3 linked regions of the Homo sapiens genome follow. The protein of the gene in region 3 interacts with the protein of the main gene of each other region in a pairwise test. Each region holds a gene or a part of one and is shown on either strand. Other genes may lie near its edges.

The links.
Region 1: the proteins of RAP1GDS1 (region 3) and PLEKHB1 interact in binary tests that used the Homo sapiens proteins (3 or more experiments, as listed by UniProt).
Region 2: the proteins of RAP1GDS1 (region 3) and PTPRF interact in a two-hybrid assay, tested with the Homo sapiens proteins (one study listed by BioGRID).

Annotation. Positions count from the first base shown.
Region 1 is NC_000011.10:73,656,580-73,663,345, reverse strand, and holds the end of PLEKHB1 (pleckstrin homology domain-containing family B member 1), read right to left. Parts: intron 2,594-6,766; coding exon 2,494-2,593; intron 1,881-2,493; coding exon 1,744-1,880; 3' UTR 527-1,743; downstream 1-526.
Region 2 is NC_000001.11:43,533,882-43,540,908, reverse strand, and holds part of PTPRF (receptor-type tyrosine-protein phosphatase F isoform 1 precursor), read right to left. Parts: intron 2,712-7,027; 5' UTR 2,632-2,711; intron 1-2,631. UniProt on the Homo sapiens protein: Possible cell adhesion receptor. It possesses an intrinsic protein tyrosine phosphatase activity (PTPase) and dephosphorylates EPHA2 regulating its activity.
Region 3 is NC_000004.12:98,411,374-98,418,400, forward strand, and holds part of RAP1GDS1 (rap1 GTPase-GDP dissociation stimulator 1), read left to right. Parts: intron 1-5,371; coding exon 5,372-5,515; intron 5,516-5,993; coding exon 5,994-6,125; intron 6,126-7,027. UniProt on the Homo sapiens protein: Acts as a GEF (guanine nucleotide exchange factor) for the Rho family of small GTP-binding proteins (G proteins) that stimulates the dissociation of GDP to enable subsequent binding of GTP.

The sequences.
Region 1 (6,766 bases), on a different chromosome or scaffold from region 3:
CCTGGATCACACAGCTCTTGGACTTCTCAGTTATGTGGCTTAACCTTTTCCCTTTGGCTTAAATCAGTTTGAACAGGGAGTTTCTATCTGACAGCCCCAAGAAGCCTGATGCAGGATGATGGTGTTTCCTTTCCTGACCACCTGGTTTTCTATGAGAACAATTCATTGATTCAACTCTAGAAGGATGGGAACCTACTGGAAAAGACTCCAACATGAACAGGATTCTCAGAAAGCAGGCAGGACCTGGCTTGGATCATCCATCAGCTCAGACAACAGAGACTCCAAGGCAGTCCCTCCTCTTGAGCCCTCAGGAATGGTCAACTTCAACCAGCTACCTTAAGTGTAGGGAAAACAAAATCCAGAAAGGTTAAGTGACTTGCCCCAAATGACTCAGCTAATATGCTGTCACCAGTTCCAACTGATCTCAGAATCCACACTCTTTTTCACTAGACCAGTGAAGGCACTAGTAGCTGCTGGATCATGGAGAGGGAAACAGGGCCTTCTGGGGGAACAAAGCAAGCCACAGTTACTGCTAGAGCCAACCAAATCTTTATTAGTCTCGGCAGCAGAACTAATGGAGCCCCCATTTACAGGGGAGCTTTAGTGGGCTAGTCTGGCTACCAGGCAGGGATGTTAGCATTTCTATTGGTGATTGGGATAGAAAGGGGGAAGAGACTGGAAGGGAACCAAAGGGGGAGACTGGTGGACCACCTGAGGGCAGGCACAGATGGGGCTTCCTGGGCTGGTGTAGAGGTGGATCAGGCCCCAGAGGAGAACACTGCCATCTTATTCAGAATGAAGGATGAGACAAAGCCTGAGAGGGTGACAGTCACAGCTACAAAGAGAGGGCCGAGCTCCTGGTGTGAGAGGCATTTCTGGACGGAGGCAGCTTTCTAGGGCTGGAAGTCTCAAATAGAACTCACCTGTTCCCCAACCAGGGGTCCCCAGGTTCAGCTCAATTGTTATCATGGGTACCAGCCAGGAAGCTGTTTGTGGGAAGGATGGGACTTGACTCAGGAGTGTTTTAGGTATGGACATGTGTCAGTATTCACAAAACAGGCAATATATTCATTATAGATGCAATCATGAAACTTCCCTCCAGAGAAGGCTCACATCTCCCCTTTCACCTAGGAAGCTCCTTAGCTTGAAGGCCCACCACGGTCTGATCCCAGCCTCCACCCCAGCCCAAATGAACTCCCATTTAATTCCTTGGACATGCCATGACGTTCACGGCTCTGCATACTTGCCAATAACTGTTCTTCCAGCCTACCTGTCTTGCTCCCTGCCCCACCTGTCCTTGTCAAAGGACTGATAACTCTTCAGCTTTGTCAAGTCCTTGTTTACTCCTGTTCTCCCCACCAGGACTCGAGCTCCCTAAGGAGAGAGCAGAGAGCCCGATTCATGTTGTGTCTACAGCGCCTGGGGAACTCGAAGCCAAATGAAGTCGTATTTGCTGTGCCCTGTTGTGTTTAGAGGAAATGTATCCATAAATGTCTATAACAGATTTTGGGGGTGTCTAGTGGTAGATGTGAAGACTTCAAGCGATGTTTGTACCTGTGATGATAGCTTCTTCCCATGTGGGGATTAAGGGTAGGGAGTGGGGGGAATGGTCCAAACCCGGAAGGAGCTAATGGAGAGGATAGGGCCAAAGTGGGACAGGGCTTGGATGGTAGAGGATGGGGTCCAGGAGGAAGAGGAGTCTAGCAATCCAAGCGCAGGGGTCAGTGCTCCGAGTCCCAGGGCTCAGAACCAGCAGGGCGACCACATGAGCGAGCCCAGCGCCGCCCCAGTGGCGGCTCCCGCAAGCATGCCCATGGCCAGAGGGGCGCCGGCGCTGTAGCAGGGATCCTCCCGCACTATCACGTGCGTCACGCCAGGGCCTGCAGAGGGAGACAGCCCATGAGGATCAGCGACTTAGGAGGGAGTAGAGTGATCTTCGTACCCTTCCTGCATCACTCCAGCCCAACCCAGTGTAAGGCGCCGAACCCACTCTCCTGCTCCCCAGTCAAAGAACAGATCTAGACGCGGGAAGAGCTCCACCCTACGGCTCCCAGGCCTTGGATCGGCTACGGATGTCCCGGAACCTACGGGTCCGCTACGGCAGGCTAGGGCGGAGCAGCGAGGAAACCCTGAGATCGCTAAGCACAACCACCAGGCGCCTAACGATGGGCATTCCCAACCGCCAGGCCCCAGAGCGGGGAGGAGGCAGCATTCCCGCAGTAGCCACCAGGGGCCGCTACCGGCTCAGGAATGGGTATTGCCGACCGCAGGGCTGAGGAGCCATCCCAGAAGGGTGAGGTCAGCTCGAGACGAACGCTGGTTCCAGAGCTCTCCCAGTCTCAGGATGGAGAGGGGCTTGCGGAGAGTTCTGCCTGGGAAAATCCGTGCACGCTAAAAGGATGAAGCCTGGTCCGGACTTACGGACCGTGGGCTGGGCCTGGCGCTGAATCGGTGCTGGATCGAGGCAAGCCCCGGGGCACGCTGGAGACTTACCTGCGTAGGGCGGTCCGTAGTAGCTGCGGACATACGTGGCCTCGTGTGCATTGGGGGGCACCACCTCGTAGTAGTCTTGGTACGGGCTGTAGACGCGCACCTGGGGAATCCAACCATGTCAGGTGCCCAGGAACTCCCTGGCCCGGATTTGGTCCCCTACCCCCACGCCTGGCACAGGCCTCTCTGGGATCCATGGAGCCACCTCCCCAAGTTTAGAAATGGGCCTCCAGCCACTAGCAAGCTCTTGGAGAAAGGCCCTGCCCTCCCCACAAGGTCCACGGTCCTCTAAAACTTCTGCCCTACATCCAGCTCCCAGTGACACCCATTCTCCAACTCTGGCCTCCCACCTAGCTCAAAAAATTCTCTATGGCTCCCAATTTCTCCTTATAGGTAGTCTAATATTTGCTAGCAGCTCTACAATAATGCCACTTGAAAGACCCAGCTCTACTAGTCACAAGGAGGGGAACATGGCCAAGCCCCAGGCCCAGGAAATAAACAGGGGTTGGGGAGGAAGGAAGGGAAAGGAAGGATAGGGATGAGAAGTAACTAAAATACAGTTATGCGTCTTTTAAACAACAGGGATACAGTCTGAGAAATGCGTCCTTAGGCAATTTTAGTTATGTGAATATCATAGAGTGTACTTACAAACAAACCTAGGTGGCACACACCTAGAGTATATGGTATATCCTATTGCTCCAAGCCAACAAACCTGTTCAGCAGGCTACTGCCCTGAATACTGTAGGCAATTGTAACACAATGGTATTTGTTATCTAACTAATCATATATAAATGTAGAAAATGTAATGCATTGCCCTACGACATTATCATGGCTACAACATCACTAGGTGATAGGAAATTTTCAGCTCCATTATAATCTTATGGAACCACCTTTGTATATGTGGTCCATCATTGACCCAAAATTGTTAGGCTGCACTAGGCTGTAACGATTATTGAGCACCTACTATGTACCAGGTCCTGAAGGAAGTGATCACGTGTGTTACACCACCTCTAATCCTTAAAGCAGGTATTAGCTCCACATGACCATAGGGTTGGGGACTGAGGCTCAGAGAATGGTCAGTGTTCTCTCTGGAATGCATTCCCTGCCCTCCCCTCTCTCCCATTAGATTTCTGCCAACCCTTCAAAGCCTAGCTCAACGGTCACCCACTCCACTCCAGGAAGCTCTCCTGGTCTCAGGAAGAATTTTTTTTTTCCCTGAATTCTGTGGATCTTGCTTGTGCCTCTTGTTGCTATCCTTTCTCCTGGCCTTTCTTGCAGCCCAAATGTGAGCTGCTTGTAGACAAGGACTCTGATTTGTTTGTGTCACCAGCAGGGCCAAGTGCATACCAGGAACCAAGAACTATGTGCTGAATTAAATGGAAACTCCAAACCCCTCATTTTACCCATGGGGGAGCAGACCTGGAGAGGGGTCAGGATCCCCTTCTCTTCTGGATCTTTCCTCTTAGCCCCATTCCACCCTGTATCTCTCTCTAACTGGGATTCACACCTGAACAGTCCAGCTCCCCTTAGAAGTCCAGGTGTCTCAAACTCCACTCATCTCAAGATGATTGCAACATTTCTCCATCTGCTAAAACTGTTGCTTTTCCCATAAATCTTTTTTTTTTTTTTGAGACAGAGTTTCATTCTTGTTGTCCAGGCTGGAGTGCAATGGCATGGTATCAGCTCACTGCAACCTCCGCCTCCCGGGTTCAAGCGATTCTCCTGCCTCAGCCTCCCAGGTAACTGAGATTACAGGTTCCTGCCACCACGCCTGGCTAATTTTTCTGTATTTTTAGTAGAGACAGGGTTTCACCATGTTCGCCAGGCTGGTCTTGAACTCCTGACCTCAGGTGATCTGCCCGCCTTGGCCTCCCAAAGTACCCAGCCCCATAAATGCTTCTCTCAGTACATGCCATCACCATGCACTCAAATCAAGAAAGGCTAGGCACAGCGGCTTATGCCTGTAATCCCAGCACTTTGGGAGGCTGAGGCGGGAGGATTGCTTGAATGCAGGAGTTCAAGACCAGTCTGGGCAACATGGCAAGAACCTGTCTCTACAAAAAATTAAAAAATTAGCTGAGTGTGGTGATGCATGCCCGTGGGCCCAGCTATTTGGGAAACTGAGGCAGAAGGATCACTTGAGCCCAGGAGATCGAGGCTGCAGTGAGCAGTGTTTGCACCACTGCACTCCAGCCTGGGCAACAGAGGGAGATCCTGTCTCAAAAAAAGAAAGAAAGAAAGAAAAAGAAAGAAGGAAAGAAAGCAGGTTGTTGCCCTTGTCTTCACACATCTGCTTTCCACACATCAGCCACCAGGTCTCGTGATTTTATCTTCTAAATGTGTTCTTCTGCCCATTCTTTTGGCCAATTCCAAGATAATAGGCCACTGGTTTTAGCAACTTGGAAGTTGTGAGTGACCTTGAAAAAACTTTTCAGAGGAGTTGCTGAGTAGGAAAAGCCAAGCTATGGAGGGTTGAAGAAAGGCTGAGAGGTGAAGGATGCAATCCCCATGTCATGACATCTCTTTCAAGAAGTTTGGTGGTAAGGGGAAGGTCTCCAAGCACACCTTGTGATTTCAAATCTCCATGCCATTTTCCTTTGCTAGGGATATGCTTCTCACCTCATTCAACCTGTCTTTCAGACTCAACTCAAGCATCACTCTCCCTGAACCTCAGGTTCTGTTGGGGTCCCATCTGGACACTCACAGCCCTTGGATGTCCCTGCATCACAGCACCGATCATGCTGTCTTCACGTTGTTTCCCTGTGTCTCTCCCATCAGACTTGGAGATGCCTTTGAGGGCAGAGACTGGGTCTAATCAGATCTGACTGGAACATGGCAGGTACCTAATAAATGTTTATTGAATTCATTCCAGTGAATCAAATACAGGGCCAGACTGGAACTAAGGTTGCCCAACTCTGAGTTCAGTTTCAAGTCAGGGAAAACATATAGTCCCAAGACAATGCAAGAGGCTCAGACAAGCAATGTCGTAAGTCAGTGAACTCTACGGTGCTCCCTCCCCATCAGTGATCCAATAGGGATTTCTGGTAGGCAGTGCCAAGATCCAGGCTCCAGGCCCAAAAGGGGTTGGAGGGATCTAAGCTCTCAGGTCCAATTTTATTGGTGGGGAAGTTGAGGTCCACAGCCTCCACCTTGCCCTGCTGCTACACAGTGAGCCAGTGGCCTTGGGAGGCCCTGGAGAGGGTGGAGCACCCCATATCCCTCGAGGGCACCTGTTTTTACTCTCCACGTCTGGGAGGCCCAGAAGTAAACTCCTATAAGTCACCTGGCAACAAATAGGGACAGCCCAGAGACCCATGGGCAGAACCTGAGGGTTTGAACCTGCCTCTCCCTCTCCAGAGGCCCAGCTACTTTGTGGGTACAACCAGTGTTGACCAATCAGGGGGTCACATGCAAATGACTCCCCTTAGCTGAGCTGTTGTGTTATTAGGTTTACAGTCTGTTAAATCCTAGTTTTTGACATCCCCACTTTAAACAAACTTGCATCCTAGTTTGGGCATGGAAAATACCTCAGAACGATGGGCTGGGAGTCCCAGACCTGCCATTGATGAGTTGAGTGACCCTGATCAAGTTAGGTAACCTCTCCAAGCCACTGAGGATCTAACAGTGCCACATCTATACAATTTGGTGGCCCAGGCACTTCTAGGCTTAGTGATTCTGCACATCAGAGTCATCAGGAGACAATTTTTTTTTTTGAGATGGAGTCTTACTCTGTTGCCCAGGCTGGAGTGCAGTGGGGTGATCTTGGTTCACTGCAACCACGTCCGCCTCCTGAGTTCAAGCCATTCTCCTGCCTCAGCCTCCTGAGTATCTGAGATTACACCATGTCTTGCTAATTTTTGTACTTTTAGTAGAGATGGGGTTTCACCATGTTGGCTAGGCAGGTCTTGAACTCCTGACCTTGCAACCTGCCCGCCTCAGCCTCCCAAAGTTCTGGGATTATAGGTGTCAGCCACCAGGCCTGGCCAGGAGACAGGTTTAAACTACAGGTTTCCTAGGCCTAGGCCCCATGCCAGATTAAAACATCCAGAGGTGGAACATGAATACTTGTTATTAGTGCTTGTAAGTTCCTAAACAATCCTGATACATAGCCACACTGAGCACCACTGTGTAAGATGAGCTCAGAGTTGACTATAAGATCACAGGTACTCTCACTCAAGCCCCCTCCTGCCACCCACCCCATGCCAGGCCCTGTGCTGAGTTCTGGGGACAGAGAAAAGATTCAGGCCAGATCCTGCCTTCAAGAAACATTGAGGGT
Region 2 (7,027 bases), on a different chromosome or scaffold from region 3:
CAACATGTTTCCAGCTCTCACCAAACCAACCACTGGATTATGACGGGAATAAATTATAGTCTCAGCCAGGACCCCTGACCCAGGGAAGGAGGGGCCTGTGGGGAAGAGGGTGAGGCCGCCTTCCCTCCTCCAGCCAGTTGGCCAGAATCCGTGAGCAGAGCCAGGAACAGCCCTCCCTCCCACGGCTGGTATCGGGGCTCCCACCAGCTGGACTGAGTCCCACCCTGTTGCAGCTCTCAGTTTCTCCATCTCACTGAGGAGTGGAGGGGGAGATTAGGAGGAGTGTCGCAGAGACTTGGAGGCGGCAAAGGGTCAGCAGGAGACTAACTCTGGAGGCAAATGACCAAAGGGGACCAGCAGAGGTATCTTCCTGCGGCTGTAACCCCTAAGCCTCCAGGCCCCTTCCTCTGGGGCTGGGGTCCCCCTTGGATTACTGTTTCCCAACTTTGTGCCTCCAAGCCTCTGTACCTGCCGTTCTGTCTATTGGAAAAAAATGTCCTTCTCCTGCCCCAGCACTCACTCACCCCTCAGAACTCTGCTCAAGTGGCCCATCACTATCCATCTTCCCCACTGACCCTCCCCAATTTTCCAGGTTTGTACAGTATAGTGAAAGCAGCAAGAGGCTGTAGACCAGAGGTTCTCAATTCAGGGTAATTTTGCCCCCATGGGACATTACGCAACGACTGGAGACATTTTTGATTGTCGAGACTGGGGAAAGCGGGGAGATGCTACTGGCATCTAGGGGGAAGAAACCAGGGATGCTGCTAGACACCCTACAATAACAAGCCCTGCCCCCACAATAAGGGTTATCTGATCCAAAATGTCAATGGTGCTGAGGCTGAGAAACCCCAACACAGACAACAAGATCCTTTGCCAATTGAGCCTAGAGCCTGACCTGGCCCCTGCCCCAGAACCCAATCCCCTGTGGGCACCCTGGGCCTTGTACCCAAGGAAGCTCCAACCTGGCTTAACTCCTGTATTTGCTGGCGCCTGGCCTCAGGATCTCAGAGTATCTTCCCCTGTACCCCCACATCAGCCCTACCCAGCCTCCAGAAGTCAGGTCCTATAGCACACCCCATCTGCACCCCACCAGACATGCCATCAGCTAGTGGCCTCCCGAGAGGACAGAGGGCTCCACCTTCAGGTACCTATTCTGGCAAGACTGGACTTCGAGTTAGGTCAGACCATCATCTGAGGATGGAGAGGCAAAGGGACACATAGTGTCCCTACACCCACCCTCCCCATCTGACCTTTCCAGCCTGTGACACAGCCCCTCTTGCTGCACCCTCTACATAACCCCAGTGCCCATCTCACCAAACGTAGGGTCTGGACCCCAGGAGACACCCAGGACATACACATTTCCTTCCCCTACCCAGGCCAGACCCATCTCTTCCACAGCCTTGTTAGTTCAGCCACCCGTCCAGATGTTCAGTGGGCAGGGTGATGAACAAGAGAGTCACAGGCTCTGCCTTCGAGGAGCTTACAGAGGGTGAACAGACCCACCGAGCTCTTGGCTCAGGATGGCCCAACCAGAACTCATCTGCCCCAATTCCACTCCTCCTCCAGGGTGTCCAGTCTTGGGGACAGCACCACCATGTTGTCAGTCACCAAGCCCGCAAACCCTCCTTAAATGCTCCCTTGTCCTCATCCCACACATCTAACCCATCAATAAGTTTGAATCTGACCTGCCTCCATCCTCACTGCCACTGTGTTAGTAAGACCTCATCACTTCCTGCCTCTTTGGTGGGCTTCCTGCCTTCAATCACTCCCAACCCATCCCGCACACAGACCAGTGCCACCTTTCAGCACATAAAAATGCAAATCTGCACTTTTGTTTGCCACTTTATTTCACAGCAGGCATTCAGACAGTGTTCCGTGAAAGAATGAACGGATGGGCAATGGACAGATCAACACATGGATATTGCTTCTCTGCTTAAGAACCTTCAATGCTGCTGTATTGCCCTCAGGAAAAAGTCTAAAGTCTTTAGCCTGACATCCAAGGCCCATGATGCTGACTCTAAACCAACTTACCAACCTCATTCCCTGCAACTCCAGCCCACCCATTCTGTGCTTCTAACAGACAGAGAGGAGAACAAGGGGACATCAAAGAGATGCAGAGGACATGCCCAGATCCTGCAGGCACCAAGCTCTTTCTACGACAACCTACAGTCGATGGGAACAGTCTTTTCTACAGAAACGTGGCGAATGGAGAAGCAGAAGAAAGATCCTGGTGTAAGTCCCAGGACATCACCCGGAAGCCTATTTCACACCTACAGTAGCTGACGAGCTGTATGTCATTCCCCATCCACCTCTATCATCCACTCCAGCCAGAAACTCAGGCACCATCCTTGACACCTCCCCTCCTTCATGCCCCACATTCAATCCTTCACCACGTCCTGTCTACTCTACCTCCCTAAATAGCACTCACATCCCTTCTCTCCACTTCTGTCACTGCCTCCCTGGTCCAGGCCTCCACAATCTCTCACCAGTGCACACTGGATCATGTCATGCCCCCTGCTGACACCCCCTCTATAGCTCTCCACTGACCCTGCATCAAATCCAAGCTGCTCAGCCTGGTCCATAGGACCCCTGTGCACCCCTGCTCCTGGCCACTCTGTGGGGCACACTCACCGAGTCTTTGCTTCTTCACCCCGGTCACTCTTGCTGGATACTCAGCACCAAGGGCCGGGCACCAGGGCCTCCACTCCTTCCTGGACAGAAAGGAAAGCATGAGAAAACATCAAGAATTTCATCACAACAGCATATGTATTGACACAGAAAGACATTAAAAATTTGCTGTTTATGCAGAAAAAAAAGCAGGTTATGGAAATGTTCATGTAGAACCATCCCCATCTGGTAAAAATGCCCATCTTTTCCCTTCACTCCCTCGCTCATTCATTTTGATACTCCCTAAGCACCTACTATGTGCTGGGCGTCCTTCCAGGCACCAGCCATATAGCTGTGAGCCACACAGACCAAGTCCCTGACCTCAGCAGTAGACTCTGTGGCCCAGCTCCTCAGCATGACCCCAGAGCCAAGCAGAGTCGGCCCCTCCCACCTCTGCAGCCCTACCTGCCCATGCTCTCCTCCTGCCAGAACGGGAACTTCCTCTTCTGATCCTCAAATGTGCCAAATTTCTTCCTGTCTCCCAGCCTTGCCAGTGCTGAATGCCACTGCCTGGCACAGGCTACCCATGCTCTTCTGGCCAACTTACCCTCGGATCTCAAGTCCAGTGGCACTTTCTCAGGGAAGCCTTCCACAATGTCCCAGACTACCTGCCTGGACCTTGGCTTGGAGCCGTGACCACAAACATGACTATTTATATATTTTTACAATTACTGAGTCACTACCATAAGCTTGATAGGAGCATGGACTGTGGCTGCCCAGCTCATTTCCGTATCCCCAGCGCCTGGCTGACAGCTGGCACATAGTAGGTGCTCAGTCAGCATACACTGAATGAGTGGATGAACGCATGAATGAGTTCAAAGAAAACAGCCCAGCCTGGAAGAACACACCCCAACATACATGCCAGTCTTCAAAGAAGCTTCAGAAGCAATATTTATTTTTGACTTTCTCTACTCTATAATTTTTAAAATGAAGGCGTGCCCCTGGATGCCTCCTCCGCTGGCACACATGCAGCGACAGAGCCCAGCCCCTTCCTTCTAGAGCCATTATTGAGTCCCCACCAGCGTGGGTACCATCCTGGGTGGGGGTGGGGGTCAGACACACCCATACCACCTCATCACCACTTCACGGAAGCTCAGCTGTTTGGCCTACTCGACGCAAGCTGCACCTTGCAGCAGGCTTCTCACCTCAAGCCCCCACATGCACAGTGATCCCCACCCCACACCACTCTGCCACCTTGGCTCCTCCTATAACGGACACAAAGAAACCACAGTGGGAGGGTGGTGCGTGGGAATGTCCTCACCGGCCCAAGACTGACCCTCATCATGAAATCAAGGACACACCTCTGCACCTGGGAATTACCCTCAAGTTGCACTAACCACCTCTGCCAATATGGGGGTACTCTCACCGACTGAAGGCCATCCCAACTGACCCAAGATGGCCCTCGCCAGCTTGGCGACCCAGCCTCCACTGCCCCACCTACCTGCACCAGAACCCGCAGCCCTCTCTGCATGCTTCCCTCCCCGCTCCCCAAGCTGAGTTTCCAGCAGCTGCTGCTCCCAGCATACAGGCTGCCCAGCAGGTCTGGCCAGACAAACCAGCTTCCAGGCCCCAAACTTAAAGGCCCATTTGTCTAGAGATGCCCGCAGGGCCTCACAGTATTCAAGTGAGGTTTTTGGCTGCACCATTGTGCAGAGACCCTGGGCAGAGGGGCAGAGTCCAAGGCAGGGAACTGGGTAATGGGAAAGGCCCCCCAAGCTGGCCAGGCGCTGCTGCCACACCCAGCCACAGCAGGGTCTCGTGCTTGGAGACTGAGACAGGCCCTACATGGAGCAGAAGCCACACCTGGAAAGAGGTGTGTACCCAAAGTGGCCAGGGGCCATTTTAGAAGACTAAACATTTGCAAAGACCCTGAGGCACACAGAACAGCATGAGGGCAGGATCCTAGAAAAGCCAAACAGTAACTTTGAACCACGTCAGTCTGGGATCAAACTGACCTCAAAACAACCTATCAGGCAACCAAATAAAGACTCAGATTCACCAACTGCAGCTCCCAGAACCCACTCTACACTCACACTGGGACAGAGCCCAGAACAACCAGGACAACCAGATACACCCCCAGAACAGAGCCAGAGCTGACATCTGGAAGGTTGACTAGAAAGCTACTCAGAAAGGGCCTGAATGGTTCAGGACCCAAGTTAGAAATCACACTGCTGGCCAGTCACAGTGGCTCACCCCTGTAATCCCGGCACTTTGGGAGGCCAAGGCAGGTGGATCACTTGAGCCAGGAGTTCAAGAGCAGCCTGGACAACATGACAAAACCCTGTCTCTAAAAAAATACAAAAATTAGCCAGGTGGGACTACACCTGTAGTCTCAGTTACTCAGGAGGCTGAGGTGGGAGGATCACTTGAGCCCAGGAGGTGGAGGCTGCAGTGAGCCACGACTGCACCACTACACTCCAGCCTGGGCAACAGAGTGAGATTCTGTTTCAAACCAAAGAGAAAAAGAAAGAAATCACACTGCTTGGCACCCAGGAAGGCCTCAGAAGGGGTGAAGTCCACAGTCATGTCCAATATCAAGAAAGAAAGCCCTTGGGGCCAACGCAGGGCTGGCCCCAGTAGGGTTCCCCATCATCTGCCAGGCCTGAAACCTGGCCCGGCAGTGGGTCAGGAGCAAGTCGATGATACCTAGGGGAATGCAGGCACAGCTGCCCTCTGGAGCAACCCCCAGAATGCCCCTGTGGCTGCACCAGGAACAGTCCCCAGAAACAGCAGCTAAAATACTGCTAAGGAGCTAAAACCAGAGTTCTCAGACCTAGAAGTCACGGTCACACAGAGACATGGTGCATCTGGACCACAGAGGCAGATGGTGGCAGAAAGAGCCTCAGTAGAAGCCCAGGGCCCAGGGAGGGTGGGAGGAAATGGAGAACTCAATACCCCAAGGCTGCCCCTTCTCAAAATTCCCTTCCACCTACCCCAAACATGGAGTCTCTTCTGCAGGCCTCACCTCTAGTCTTCTCAAGCCCACCCACCTGAAGGTCAAACACCTGAGCAACACAAACAATCCCATCGATAACAATAGGGGCAGGCACCCCCTTTGTTGAGCTCCTTGACCTGCTAATCTCAGCTCAGAATTGCAGCAACCTTAGGCAGACAGGGACCCTAACCTTAGCAGTCTATCTTCTCATTAAAGGCAACCTCATGTGACCCCTGATGGGAGGGTGGGTTTACACCATCCCAGTTGAGGATGATTACAGTAACTGCAAACACAGACAACAGTACTCACTAGATGCCAAGCCCTGTGCTACACACACTTTATGCATACTATCTTTAATCCTCATAACAACCCTTATAAGGCACGGGTTTTTATTATAATCATTTGACAAATGAGGAAGCGGATTCAGAGAGGTTAAGCCACTTGCTTAAAGTCACGCTGCTAGTAAACAGAGTCCAATCCTAGCAGTATAAAACTCGAGCTCTTCACCACTGTCGGAGGTTACTTTCTCTCGAGGTGCACAGCTCTATGGTCTCTCATACAGCTCTCGCTTCTCTTGGTCCGACCGACATTTCTCTCCCATACCCTCACACCAAAGCCCCTCCTTGATGTGCCTCCCCCACTGAGCCTCCAATGTCCCAAGTACCTCAAGGGCCACATGTCCAACTAAGAGCTTATTCTCTGCCCCTCCTCACCAAGTCCCTAACACAGTGAAGCTTCAGGGCCTTCAGTGAAGGCCCGCTCAACCACTCCGAGGAACCTGGACTCCTTCCTCTTCCTCTCCTTCACTCCCACATCCAATAAATCATTCTGTCCTGACAAGTGTACCTTCAAGATGGCACCATGCTACCACCTATCAAAGCCAGCATCTTCTCTCACCTTACTTACCTGCACCCTCTTGCCCCACTGGGCATCCTGTCTCCATCCTTTTCCCATAGCCACAGAGCATTTTCTGGAAACATAAACCTGACCACAGCACACTCCACCCTCCCTATCCAAGCTTTAAACCTTTGGTGTTTTCTCTCTGGGTTCTCAGAGTAAAATTACAGGTACTTAACAGGGCATTCAATGCCCTCTGTGATCTGCCACATCTCTGAATACTTCACAAGTGACAACACCTCCCAGTCTTTATTCATACTGGTTTTTATCTATCTCAAGTCCTTTCTCTCTTCTTCAAACTCCTACTCATCCCTCCAAACCTAGTTCACATCACTTCTTCTTGGTCTCCTCTGGGACTCACCTCACCCTGACCTCCGAACTCTCCCCCGTCTCTTGATGAACTCTTGCAATGTTCTAACCCAACTCAGAACCGCAGCTGCTTTAGTTGAGCAGATGCCTGAACCTTAGGGGTGGGCTGCCTCTTCTACATAGCTGTTAGTCCCAAAGGAAGAAAGGCAGCCGGGGCCG
Region 3 (7,027 bases):
CAGAGGCCAAGGCAGAAGGATTGCTTGAGCCAGGAGTTCAAGACCAACCTGGGCAACACAGCAAGACCCTGTCTCAAAAAAAAAAATTAATTAAAATTTTAAAACTACAATATTGACACATTTAAAATTTCTTAAATGTCTTAGGTCCTATTTCTTAGGGAGAAATTTGTTTTTTATCTCATTGGTGTTTTGGCAAAGTAAAAATTTTACTGTGACCTTCAGTCAATTTTAGGCCATAAAATAACCTATAACTTTCCTTGCAGTATTTCAAAATAACAATGTGTTGATATTTATTACTGTTTTCCCCTCTGCCTTCACATCTGTTTTATAATTGCACAATGGATAGGATGATACCATTGAAGGCTTGTTTTTGGACTAATTCTTTGCATGTATCATCCTTCATTTTCCCAGTACACGAAGGAGAGTGATTTCAGCATTAGAAGTTGGGATTTGTATAGTTCAAGGATTTTAGTATTTTTAAGGCTTTTTCATCATAGTTTTTAATTCTAGTCACCACACATCTCTAGCCCTAGCATTCTGTAACCAAGGAAACGCCCTACTTTTAGCATGGCACAGTACAAGTGTACCTTTTAAAGAAATATTCCAGGTTGAATACTCTGTGTATTCTGAGATAATATTCAAAAGAAGATCAGTGATCCTAGTGATTCAAAAAAGCCAAATTTTAACACATTAAAATTGCCTGAAAGTCTTAAGTATTTATTTTTAAAAGTCTTTATTTTTCCTAAATGATAAGCTGAAGCTGCCATTGCCATATATGGATGCATATACAGCTTAGGGAAACCAATGACTAAAATAAAATCCAACTGAAAAAATAAAGTTTAAATTTAAAAATTTCTGGCCAGGTACAGTGGCTCATGCCTGTAATCCTAGCACTTTGGGAGGCCAAGGCAGGAAGATTGCTTGAGGCCATGAGTTCAAGACCAGCCTAGGCAACATAGTGAGACCCTGTCTCTACAAAAAAAGTTTAAAAATTAGCCAGGCATGGTGGCATGCACTTTTAGTCCCAGCTACTCAGGAGGCTGAGATAGGAGGATTGCTTGAGCCCAGGAGTTCAAGGATGCAGTGAGCTATGATCATACCACTGCGCTCCAGCCTGGGCAACGGAGCGAGACACTGTCTCTTAAACAAAAAATCTGTGTTGCAAATGTATTTTTCAGGTGAGTTGACTAGCATTTATCTTAAGGAGTATCAACTACACTCAAAGCATTTAGATAGGCCAGTTTAGGTTAAGATACAAAGATGAGTAAGGTGTATCTATTGGGGGAACCAGCCCCCAATATTTCAATGTATGTTCTATTTTCCCTAAATGTCGGCCCATCTGAGAAATAGAGAAAGAGTACAAAAAGAGGAATTCTACAGCTGGGCCTCCAGGGGTGACATCACATATCGGTAGGTCCGTGATGTCCCCTGAGCCACAAAACCAGGAAGTTTTTATTAGGGATTTCAAAAGGGGAGGGAGTGTACAGGGAGTAGGTCACAAAGATCACGTGCTTTACAGGGCAATAAAGATCACAAGGCAAGGGCAAAGCAAAGATCACAAGGCAAAGGGCAAAATTAGAATTACTGATGAGGGTCTATGTTTGGCTGTGCACGTATTATCTTGATAAACACCTTAAACAACAGAAAACAGCGTTCGAGAGCAGAGAACCGGTCTGACCTCAAACTTACCAGGGCGGGATCTTTTCCGCACCCTAATAAGCCTGAGGGTACTGCAGGAGACCAGGGCGTATTTCAGTCCTTATCTCAACCGCATAAGACAGATACTCCCAGAGCGGCCATTTATAGACCTCCCCCCAGGAATGCAATTCCTTCCCCAGGGTATTACTATTTTTTTTTTTATTATACTTTAAGTTTTAGGGTACATGTACACATTGTGCAGGTTAGTTACATATGTATACATGTGCCATGCTGGTGCGCTGCACCCACTAACTCGTCATCTAGCATTAGGTATATCTCCCAATGCTATCCCTCCCCGCTCCCCCCACCCCACCACAGTCCCCAGAGTGTGATATTCCCCTTCCAGTGTCCATGTGATCTCATCGTTCAATTCCCACCTATGAGTGAGAATATGCAGTGTTTGGTTTTTGTTCTTGCGATAGTTTACTGAGAATGATGATTTCCAATTTCATCCATGTCACTACAAAGGACATGAACTCATCATTTTTTATGGCTGCATAGTATTCCATGGTGTATATGTGCCACATTTTCTTAATCCAGTCTATCATTGTTGGACATTTGGGTTGGTTCCAAGTCTTTGCTATTGTGAATAATGCCGCAATAAACATACATGTGCATGTGTCTTTATAGCAGCATGATTTATAGTCATTTGGGTATATACCCAGTAATGGGATGGCTGGGTCAAATGGAATTTCTAGTTCTAGATCCCTGAGGAATCGCCACACTGACTTCCACAATGGTGGAACTAGTTTACAGTCCCACCAACAGTGTAAAAGTGTTCCTATTTCTCCACATCCTCTCCAGCACCTGTTGTTTCCTGACTTTTTAATGATTGCCATTCTAACTGGTGTGAGATGGTATCTCATGTGGTTTTGATTTGCATTTCTCTGATGGCCAGTGATGATGAGCATTTTTTCATGTGTTTTTTGGCTGCATAAATGTCTTCTTTTGAGAAGTGTGTGTTCATGTCCTTCGCCCACTTTTTGATGGGGTTGTTTTTTTCTTGTAAATTTGTTTGAGTTCATTGTAGATTCTGGATATTAGCCCTTTGTCAGATGAGTAGGTTGCGAAAATTTTCTCCCATTTTGTAGGTTGCCTGTTCACTCTGATGGTAGTTTCTTTTGCTGTGCAGAAGCTCTTTAGTTTAATTAGATCCCATTTGTCAATTTTGTCTTTTGTTGCCATTGCTTTTGGTGTTTTGGACATGAAGTCCTTGCCCATGCCTATGTCCTGAATGGTAATGCCTAGGTTTTCTTCTAGGGTTTTTATGGTTTTAGGTCTAACATTTAAATCTTTAATCCATCTTGAATTGATTTTTGTCTAAGGTGTAAGGAAGGGATCCAGTTTCAGCTTTCTACATATGGCTAGCCAGTTTTCCCAGCACCATTTATTAAGTAGGGAATCCTTTCCCCATTGCTTGTTTTTCTCAGGTTTGTCAAAGATCAGATAGTTGTAGATATGCGGCATTATTTCTGAGGGCTCTGTTCTGTTCCAATGATCTATATCTCTGTTTTGGTACCAGTACCATGCTGTTTTGGTTACTGTAGCCTTGTAGTATAGTTTGAAGTCAGGTAGTGTGATGCCTCCAGCTTTGTTCTTTTGGCTTAGGATTGACTTGGCGATGCGGGCTCTTTCTTGGTTCCATATGAACTTTAAAGTAGTTTTTTCCAATTCTGTGAAGAAAGTCATTGGTAGCTTTATGGGGATGGCATTGAATCTGTAAATTACCTTGGGTAGTATGGCCATTTTCACGATATTGATTCTTCCTACCCATGAGCATGGAATGTTCTTCCATTTGTTTGTATCCTCTTTTATTTCCTTGAGCAGTGGTTTGTAGTTCTCCTTGAAGAGGTCCTTCACATCCCTTGTAAGTTGGATTCCTAGGTATTTTATTCTCTTTGAAGCAATTGTGAATAGGAATTCACTCATGATTTGGCTCTCTGTTTGTCTGTTGTTGGTGTATAAGAATGCTTGTGATTTTTGTACATTGATTTTGTATTCCCCAGGGTATTATTAATATTCCTTGCTGAGAAAAGAATTCAGTGATATCTCTCCTACTTGCACATCCGTTTATAGGCTCTCTGCAAGAAGAAGAATATGGCTCTATTCTGCCTGACCCTGCAGGCAGTCAGACCTTTGGTTGTCTTCTCTTGTTCTGTAAAATCACTGTTATTCTGTTTGTTTTCAAGGTGCACTGATTTCATATTGTTCAAACACCCATGTTTTACAATCAGACTTCATATTTTTCAAGCACACATGTTCTACAATCAGTTTGTACAATAGTGATCCTGAGGTGATGTACATTCTCAGCTTACAAAGATAACAGGATTAAGAGATTAAAGTAAAGACAGGCATAAGAAATTATGAGTATTATTTGGGAACTGATAAATGTCCATGAAATCTTCACAATTTATGTTTTTCTGCCACGGTGCCAGCCAGTCCCACCATTTGGGGTCCCTGACTTCCCACAACATATATCTGCTCAGGAGATAGATGGAGACAGATATGGAGGCAAATATAAGCTCTTCAGTGAAATAAGTGTTATAATGAAAGAATACTTAAAGATATTAGAAGTATAATAAAAAGTGTTGATGTGGGGGTGGAGTTTCCTATGAAGATCAGTTTTAAAAATGTAATTGGGATGTAAATTCTGTCTCTAAAATACCTTATGTTATGTTTAGCCATCAGAAAGGTTCAAGGTTATTTTTTTCTTTTAACTTTTATTATGAACATTTTGAAATGTATTCAGAAATAGCATTTAGTAAACCACCATGTACCCATCACTCAAGAAAGCTTTAAATCAATGAAAACCTGAAGCCCTTTTTAAAAACACGACTTTATTTATTTATTTATTTAATTTTTATAGACAGGGTCTCACTCTGTTGCCCAGACTGGAGTGCAGTGGCACAGTCATAGCTTACTGTAACCTTGAACTCCTGGCCTCAAGCAATCTTCCTGCCTTGGCCTCCCAAAGCACTGGGATTACAAGTGTAAGCCACCATGCCCAGCCCTATTTTATAGTATTTTATAGCTTGCCCTTTAAACATGAGCATGATATCTAGAGTAATAGTGGAGTGATACTAGTTGCTTTCAGAGCTGAGTATCAATTTGTTTAGATGCTGCAAGACATCCTGAAAAATTTGGCAATTTCAAATGGAAATATGAAATAAAGCTTTTTTGTATATTTAAATGAACTGTCAAGATAGTTTACTTTGAAGATTTGAGTTTCAAAAATGTATTATCTAAATCATGCATTTTCTTAGTTTTTTTTTTTTTTTTTTTTTTTTTTTTTTGAGACAGAGTCTCGCTCTATTGCCCAGGCTGGAGTGCAGTGTTGCAATCTTGGCTCACTGCAAGTTCCGCCTCCCAGGTTCACGCCATTCTCCTGCCTCAGCCTCCTGAGTAGCTGTGACTACAGGCGCCTGCCACTGCACCTGGCTAATTTTTTTTTGTATTTTTTAGTAGAGACGGGGTTTCATGGTGTTAGCCAGGATGGTCTCGATCTCCTGACCTTGTGATCCGCCCATCTCGGCCTCCCAAAGTGCTGGGATTACAGGCGTGAGCCACCGCACCTGGCCCTCTTAGTTTCTTATAATTCTTTATAATGGACTGCTTATACCAGAGCTCCTATTTTATCTCAAAGTTTGATTATTTTGTTCACGTTGTTCTTTAGATGCTATTAAACTACAGCTGGTTGAAGCAGGCCTAGTAGAGTGTCTACTAGAGATTGTTCAGCAAAAAGTGGATAGTGACAAAGAAGATGATATTACTGAGCTCAAAACTGGTTCAGATCTCATGGTTTTATTACTTCTTGGAGGTGAGTTGTAATTTATGCCAGCCAAAGAATGTGGTTGTCAGATGTTTTTAAAATTTATTGTCTCTTCTGTAAATACTACCCTAGACATTTTCTCATATTCCTATCTCACCTGCTATTGAGGTGATGATTTTGACATCTTAAACATGCCATTGATACAACCAGACATAATGAACCTGAAAAAGAAGTGTCTTCACTATCTTCCAGTATTTGAAGAGCTGTCACATAGAAGAGATAGCTTTGGCACCAAGGGACTAAAGAAAAGCTAGATGGCTCCCTGGGACTTGGACTAGAAAAAATGCTAGACTCTATTGTCTAGTATCTATTAAATGTTTATTATAAAAAGAATCATTACTTTTCCCATTATGAATGTAACAGTTTGTGAGGTGTGAGTTTCCAGTTGGATATTCACCTAAGAATGTGAATTTGTTACTCCTAGTTATTTTTCTCTTGCTTAACTATTCGTTTCATTTACCTCCAGATGAATCCATGCAGAAGTTATTTGAAGGAGGAAAAGGTAGTGTATTTCAAAGGGTACTCTCTTGGATCCCATCAAATAACCACCAGCTACAGCTTGCTGGAGCATTGGCAATTGCAAATTTTGCCAGAAATGGTAAGCATATTAGTTCCTCCTTTGTTAGTCAAATACTCTATATTTGTTTATTTTTGCTTTGCTACCACATATACTAAAACTGGAACAGTTTAGAAGTTGTGTAATATGTGTATATGCTGCTAACTTAATTTTTCAGAAATCTGAAATACTTAGTGACATTCCTAACAAATTACATATTTTATGCAATTCAACTAAATTCTAATAGTTTAAATATCATGAAGTGCTTCTTTTGAATACTTGGCACTTCAGAGCTTAGTAAGTTTGAATCCCATTCTAGTATACATCTGCTTTCTTTTGCCTAGTGATTTTATTTTGGATCTAATTATCTGAGTATTCATTCTAGGATTATTGTGCCTCAACTTATATACTTTTATGCCCATAAAACTTAAGTATGAATAATCCCCTGGCATCGTGTAGAATGTTTAATTTAGTTTAATAATGTTTCAGGGGGCGCCAGACTTCTATGTTTATGAAATCTGGCACTACCAAAAAACTCAAATACAGTCTAGAAACTCATTCTTACGTTCCTCATGAAATATACCGTGTCTAGGAAATACAGTTTATTTTTCTTTTTAGTTTAATCATCTTCCAGTACAAACTGTTGGTATATATTATATCATAATGGCTTACTTGCTCCATTTTTACTCCTTCTTTTTGGGAGTGACTTCCTAATTATGGAGGTAAGAGTGGCATAATATGGATAATTATTGAAACTAGATATGGGGTAAATAGTGGTTCATTATAATATTCTCTCCGCTTTGTAAGTGTTTGAAAAATAATTTAGGTATCAGCCATGATAGCAAAAGGTAGAGTACTATCACTGTAACATTGGGAGAACACAAGCATACATCACAATAAATGAAAAATATTGGACATTCTAACCATGTGTTTCTACTTCTGAT